Homo sapiens: one gene and its partner. The protein of the gene in region 2 purifies or fractionates together with the protein of the main gene of each other region. This does not show direct contact. Each region holds a gene or a part of one and is shown on either strand. Other genes may lie near its edges.

The links. Proteins that work in one complex are often made in the same cells at the same time.
Region 1: the proteins of FBXO22 (region 2) and CENPE purify together in Homo sapiens (affinity purification with mass spectrometry, with the first as the bait; one study listed by BioGRID). This does not show direct contact.

The regions. Positions count from the first base shown.
Region 1 is NC_000004.12:103,105,055-103,108,327, reverse strand, and holds the end of CENPE (centromere-associated protein E isoform 1 precursor), read left to right. Parts: intron 1-2,011; coding exon 2,012-2,106; 3' UTR 2,107-2,517; downstream 2,518-3,273. UniProt on the Homo sapiens protein: Microtubule plus-end-directed kinetochore motor which plays an important role in chromosome congression, microtubule-kinetochore conjugation and spindle assembly checkpoint activation.
Region 2 is NC_000015.10:75,917,158-75,921,169, forward strand, and holds part of FBXO22 (F-box only protein 22), read left to right. Parts: intron 1-72; coding exon 73-237; intron 238-4,012. UniProt on the Homo sapiens protein: Substrate-recognition component of the SCF (SKP1-CUL1-F-box protein)-type E3 ubiquitin ligase complex that is implicated in the control of various cellular processes such as cell cycle control, transcriptional regulation, DNA damage repair, and apoptosis.

The DNA of each region.
Region 1 (3,273 bases), on a different chromosome or scaffold from region 2:
AACCAGACATGATCCCTGCCTTCATAGAGCTTAATTCTCATGGAAGATACAGACAGTAATCAAGTGATTAAAAAAAAAAAAAAGTGAAATTATAGCAGTGCAAGTACAAAAGACTATGAGAAATATAATAAGTATTTGAGGAGTATTGAGGAAGGAAACAGATCAGATCTAAAAGGTTAACATGAGTTATCTTAATAAAGAGCAGAGGGAAAAACATCTCAGGCAGATGGAACAGCAACAGCGTTAGGGTAGGTGGGAACATGACCAGGGGAAGAGTTGAAAGAAATATGGTGTGGTCAGAGCACAGTGAGTACAAGCTTGTGTGGGTGAAGTCAGTGAGGCCAAAGAGAGAAATAAGAGCCAGAAATGCTGGACTTTTATAAATTATATAAAGGAATTGTTTCATTTATTGTGTAGAGGAAGCCTTTGAAAGATCTTAAGCAATGGCAGGAGAACATGAGTTATACATTTTGAAAACATCACCTCGTCTCTAAGGTGACCAGCAAATAATAGGAGCAGGAGTTAGACTGTTGTCTAAACAAGACATGATGGTAGTGTGGACTTGGAGTAGAGAAGGAGAGAAGTAGACCGACGGGAGAGATTTTGGAGTAAAATCAGCAACACCAGGCACCTGATTGAACAAAGGAGTGGGGAGGTATCAAGGATCACCCCCAGCTCTGCATGGAGGTTGTCCACAGAAGTGGGGGGACTTGCAGGAGAAACGGTAACACGGCATTTCTTGTAGTCTTTCTCACCACATAGCATCTACTGTGCACAGCCCTTTGTGACAGTGTGTCTGCCTACCCTACCAGAGGTACCCTGTTATGCAACTGTAGAAATCTAAAGCAACAAAATTGTACAGTAAGAAAGGCAGTTGCCAAATCATTTAAAACCTTGAGCACTATTTGCCAGAGTTTATAAACCTCTACTTTGTGATTAAGAAAAAATCTATCCATTCTCATCAACTACATCAAAATTAGATCAAGTTGACAGTCTAAAAGTGTTCTTAGGGAGATAGGTAGGCACAGAAACATTTGGAATAAAAACATGTTTGAAATATTCTCTTCATTAAATAGTATTTAACAAACATTTAAGGACCTTCTATTGGCTAGCTAACACTTGCATGGAACTCTCTCACTATGTTGCCCAAACTGGCCTTGAACTCCTAGGCTCAAGCAATCCTCCTAAGCATCAAGGACTACAGGTGCATGCTAGCTACCACACCCAGCTGTAATCACCTTTTGATTTTGTCTGCTAGTGCCAGAGGCATATGCATAATGTGAATTCATCAAACTGCAAATAAAAATGTTTGAGTCCTTTTTTAATATGTGGATCTCTCTGGTACTGTTTTTAGATAAATAAAAGAGTAGCCTAGAAGAATACATAAATCAAAAACTGACCAATTCAGAATTAAATGAGATAGTCCCAGCTTGAATTAATACCAGTCTTTAAAAAAATAAATGTGAGTTTTTACTTTTAATTATAAAAGGTAATCTAAATTACCTTAAACTAAGGTAATTGCCAAGACCAGTTATGGTAGATTTACTTTTATAAATATAATAATTGTAAAATAAATATTGTTTATAAGCAAATAGATGCAGCTAAAGTCCTTTTTAAAGGCTCACAGAAAGCTTTCCAAAGATGATTAAATATTCTCTAAAATACTATTTGTTTAGCACACCATTTATTTTGAAAAACAGGACAAAAGAAAACTCAATCAGCCCGTGTTTGATTCACTTTGAATTTCAAATTGAAGAATTCCAAATAAAACTTTATTACCTCTCAGTTTAACTATGGTTTGTCTAATAGTTCATTTTAGGACAAAATGGGGAGTAAACTTCTCCAACTCTGAGGTGAAATACACCATCTTCATGACCAAACACGGTGAATCACGTTGCCATTTTTCATTCTTCACATCTCTCCTGTCTTAACCTCCTTTCCACTTCCAGCTGTGCTTGGTTTTTGTGTATTTTTGTAATAGGATGAATGTTGTTTTCATTTTCTTTCTCAGAGGTGCAAAATGCAGGAGCAGAGAGTGTGGATTCTCAGCCAGGTCCTTGGCACGCCTCCTCAGGCAAGGATGTGCCTGAGTGCAAAACTCAGTAGACTCCTCTTTGTCACTTCTCTGGAGATCCAGCATTCCTTATTTGGAAATGACTTTGTTTATGTGTCTATCCCTGGTAATGATGTTGTAGTGCAGCTTAATTTCAATTCAGTCTTTACTTTGCCACTAGAGTTGAAAGATAAGGGAACAGGAAATGAATGCATTGTGGTAATTTAGAATGGTGATAGCAATACCTTCTTCTTGCATATGGTAATACTTTTAAAAGTTGAATTGTTTTATTTATTTGTATATTTTGTAAAGAATAAAGTTATTGAAAGAAATGTAAAGTTATCTACATGACTTAGCATATTCCAAAGCATAATACATACATTAATATAAAACATCATTTTATTAACAAAATTGTAAATGTTTTTAATACCTTACACATTCAATAAATGTTTAGTAGTTCTGAATCACCGCTCTTCTATATAATGTTAATGGTTTCTTGGTGAGGTAGTCTCTCTTGTTGACTCAGTATTTTGCTATGAAAATATACACAAGTTTTCTGGATCTGGATTTAAATTCTTAAAGGATAGCAGAGGCTATGTCCTCTTAACTTTCCAGTTCTAATATTCCTTTTACTGTAATAACCACAGAAGTTCTTTCTCACATTTCTGGTAACCTACCTATCCCAATCCCTATACAAACTCTCTAAATTGGTTGGTTTATTATAGACTTTGTTTTTCATTGCCCCTCACTCCCAGCCTGGAGGAACCTATAGATCATTTATTCTACCTCTTCATTGTAGACATAAGGAAACAGTACCAGAGTTTTTATCAAAGTAAAGTTTTCTAAACCTGGAGTCCCCACAGATAGATAAAGCATATATGGATGGACTTCTTGTAATCTGTAAAATTTTTGAAATTTTTTATGAACTTTTTTGTGTGGATTTATTTGGGGGGAGGGGATACTGGGGTTTATACTTTGTTTTATCATATTCTTAGAGGGGCCCGTGATCCTGTAAAAATCTAAGAACTATGGTTTTAGAGGATATTTGATATTACTTTTATACCATATGACTTTGAAAAACCACTTAAAACAAGTTGCATTAGGTTATAGAACAGAGGTAAAGTGATTTCAAGTCATTCTCGGCTCTTTGGTAAGATTCATTCAAAGGGAGAGATTATTGATTGCATCATATCTAGTATTTCAAAGTCTGTGGATTGGAT
Region 2 (4,012 bases):
CTTAGTGACCTAAACTGTAGTTATCTAGTTTTTACTGACTCTATTGGTGAAACTGTTTAACTTTTTCTCTAGTGACTCCAATGGGATCAGGTAGCAATCGACCTCAGGAAATAGAAATTGGAGAATCTGGTTTTGCTTTATTATTCCCTCAAATTGAAGGAATAAAAATACAACCCTTTCATTTTATTAAGGATCCAAAGAATTTAACATTAGAAAGACATCAACTCACTGAAGTAGGTAAGTTACTTTTATTTATCATTAACTGCTCATTTTATTGATTAATTTTGTTTTCTTTTTAATTCTGGCTAGTTGGTGGATATTAGGTTCCTTTGGGAGAATCTGAATTAAGTACACCTGTCACTGGAGATGTGGCTAATTCAAACAGGTGATTCACAGAGGCCAGTGTGATACATGTTTGGTAGAATTGATTTACTTTTTAAATTATTTTACTTGCATTAAAGCCCAAGAGAACCAGAGATGAAAAATTTTTCATAAATACTCTGTTGATGATAAACTTGTTTGTATTTAGTTCTGAATTTTAAGGAATTCTTGCTCTAATAGTTTATTTCATTTTGCTCTATTTTTGTTTTGTTAACCTTTTTTATTCTAGTAACAAGCATTTTAGAAGTTTTTAGAATACGCGGGTTAGTTCTTTGTGAACTAATTAGAAAGATGGGAACAAGTAAAGTGACCCTGATGAGTCTTAGGAAATATATGAGTTAAGGCAAGTCTATCAAGCAAGGGGTGTGCTGGGAAACATCCTGCAGGTAGTGTGGATGGAGCCCTGAAGTGAATTTGAAGAGGTAAAGGGTTGGCTTAATGTCTAAGCTTGGATGGGAAAGCTTAACTTAATATAGTAAACAACAAACGAATTACTCAAGGAAAGCAGCGTTTAGCCTTTTATCTACATCTGCAGATGGACTGATTGAATTCACTTCATTCATTAAAAATCACTGTTGGCATAAAAACTATTCAGTGGTAACACCTCATTTTTGCATAGATCAGCCAGCCTATAGAGATAAACCTCTGTTATTTGAAATGGGACTTAAACCAGCTGGAGTAAAAAATTGTGTAGCAGCAAAGGTAAAATTTGTTTTACTGATGAGGAAAAAAAGGGGGTATACACATTGAGACTAGTTTTTACAACTATCCCTGACAATGTGGAAAAAAAAAAAAAACTTGCAAGTCATTGGTGGATGGGAGGGGAAGCACAGAACAAGAGGCATTAGCAGCAAAGACTCAGCCGGGAACCTCTTAATAATGTGGAAGAGGGTGGTCAGGTCAAAGTAGATGGTGGAAAGTCTCAACAGCCAGCTCTGGTGTGACACAGGGTAGTGTAGCTATTAAGAATGCTGACTTAGAAATGAAATCAGTATGTTGAAGAGATATCTGCACTCCCATGTTTATTGCAGCACTGTTCACAATAGCTAGGATATGGAATTAACCTAAGTGTCCATTAGCTGATGGTGGATAAAGAAAATGTGGTATACATACATAATGAAATACTCTTCAGCCATAAAGGACATCCTGTCATTTGCACCAGCATGGATGAACCTGGAGGATGTTAAGTGAAATAAGCCAGGCCCAGAAAGACAAATAGTGCATGATCTCACTCATGTGTGGAATCTAAAAATGTTGCTCTCATAGAAATATAGAGTTGAATGGCAGGCACCAGGATCTGGGGTGGTTGGGAGGGGCTTTGGGGAGATGATGGTCAAAAGATACAAAATTCGTTTTGGAGGAATAAGTTCTTGAGGTCTGTTGTACAACATGGAGACTATAGTCAGTGACCATATATTCTTTTTTTTGTTTGTTTTGGAGACAGAGTCTCACTTTGTTGCCCAGGCTGGAGTGCGGTGGCATGATCTCAGCTCACTGCTACTTCTACTTCCTGGGTTCAAGGGTTCAAGTGATTGTCATGCCTCAGACTCCCGAGTAGCTGGGACTACATGCTGTATGCACCACCATGCCTGGCTAATTTTTTTTGTCTTTTTATTAGAGATAGGGTTTTACCATGTTAGCCAGGGTGGTCTCAAACTCCTGGCCTCAAGTGATCCACCTGCCTCGGCCTCCCAAAGTGCTGGGATTACAGGTGTGAGCCATCGTGCCTGGCCCATATACTATATTCTTGAAGAATGCTAAGAGAGTGACTGTTAAGTGTTCTTACTACAAAAATGGTAACTGTGAGATAATGCATATGTGAATTAGACTTAGCCCTTCCACAATGTATATATACTTCAAAACATGTTATACATTGATAAATACATACAATTTTATCTGTCAGTTAAAAAATAAATAGAAGGTAGTCAACCTTAAAAGATTGCAGGCTTGTAGCTACTCTAGTTCTGCTACTTTCTGGCTCTCCAGTTAGGGCAAGTTTTTCAATTTTTCTAAACCTCCATTTTCCTCATCTATAAAGTGGAAATAACTAACATTGAATTCACAGAATTGTGAAGATTAAATGAAATGACTTTCATAAAACGCTTAGCAACAGTAGATTGTAGCTAGATGCTAGTGTTGGCCTCCACCCTAGGCAGGCTTTACTGTGTGTCACATGGGCCCTTCATCTGCAGTGTGGCCTTGTAGTTTGTGGGGGGAATAGTAGGGTTCTAAGTGTCCTTAGCTCATTCAGAAGCCACATGCCAGAGGAGCATACATGTGTCTGGGCTTGAAGTGACAATTAACGATGGCCAATGTTTATGGAGGTACTGTATGCCAGATACTGTGCTGCGCAGCACTTCTAATCTTCACCACAGCTTTGCCAGACAGAATTCTTTATGGAATATTTTTGATGAGGAAACTGAACTTTAATGGCAGTAGAGAGTTAAGGCTCTTAGGGTATGTAAATAGCAGAGTTAGCAGAAATGTTAAAGCTATTCTAAATTAAGGATGCCAAACTTCCTTTGGGAAAAGGTCAGATAGTGCCCTTAAAACTGACCCATTGTTAAGTGTAAAGGCAAAATGAATTTTAGGAGCAAATGTGGCTATGTGCTGAGCTTATGTGATTTTGTAATAACATAATGAGACTTGATATTGGTAGGCTAGCTGGAGCGAACAAAGTTCAGCAAACTAGGTCTTTTTCAGAGTTGGTCAGGTGGTTAGCAAATAGTAGGTCTGAAACTCAAAGGAATGGCTGTGGTCAGACATGTTGGTTTGAGAACCATTTTGTGTGTTGCCTGGCAGTCTGCCTGTAAAAGCATCAAGTGTCATTGAAGGCCTTGGAGTAAGCCAGTCCAGGGCAACATAGCCCAGATTCTGGGAAGATTTATGGCAGCAAATTTAGTACAAGGAAGGAAGAAGATGATCAATGTGTTGATGTTGACGAGATGACTATCTATATTCAATTGGCTCATAATGTAGAACTCCTACATTAATTTTATTCAGGCTGGTATGGTGGCTCATGCCTGTAATTTCAGTACTTTGGGAAGCTGAGGCGGGAGGATCGCTTGAGCCCAGGAGTTCGAGACCAGCCTGGACAATATAGTGAGACCTCACCTCTACAAAAAAACTAAAAAACTAGCCAAGCATGGTGGCACGCACCTGTAGTCCCAGCTACTTAGGAGGCTGAGGTGGGAGGATTGCTTGAGCCCAAGAGGCGGAGGTTGCCGTGAGCTGAAGTCACGCCACTCTACTGCAGCCTGGGTGACAGAGTGAGACCCTGTCTCAAAAATAAATAAATAAATAAAAATTTATTCAGCATGTTAAAGGTGACATAACTGGATGTAGATTCTGTCTCAGTGACATTCCAGAAAAGGTATGAAGAATACATATACAGTCATATGTTGCTTAATGACGGGGATGAGTTCTGAGAAATGCATCTTTAGGCAATGTTGTTGTTGTGTGAATGTCATAGTACTTACACAGACCTAGATGTTACAGCCTACTATATGTGTAGGCTATACAGTGTAGCCTATTGCCCCTAGACTACAAACATGGACAGCATGTTACTGTACTGAATACTGTAGGCAGTTGTAACACAATGGTAAGTATTGGTGTATCTGAACATATCTAA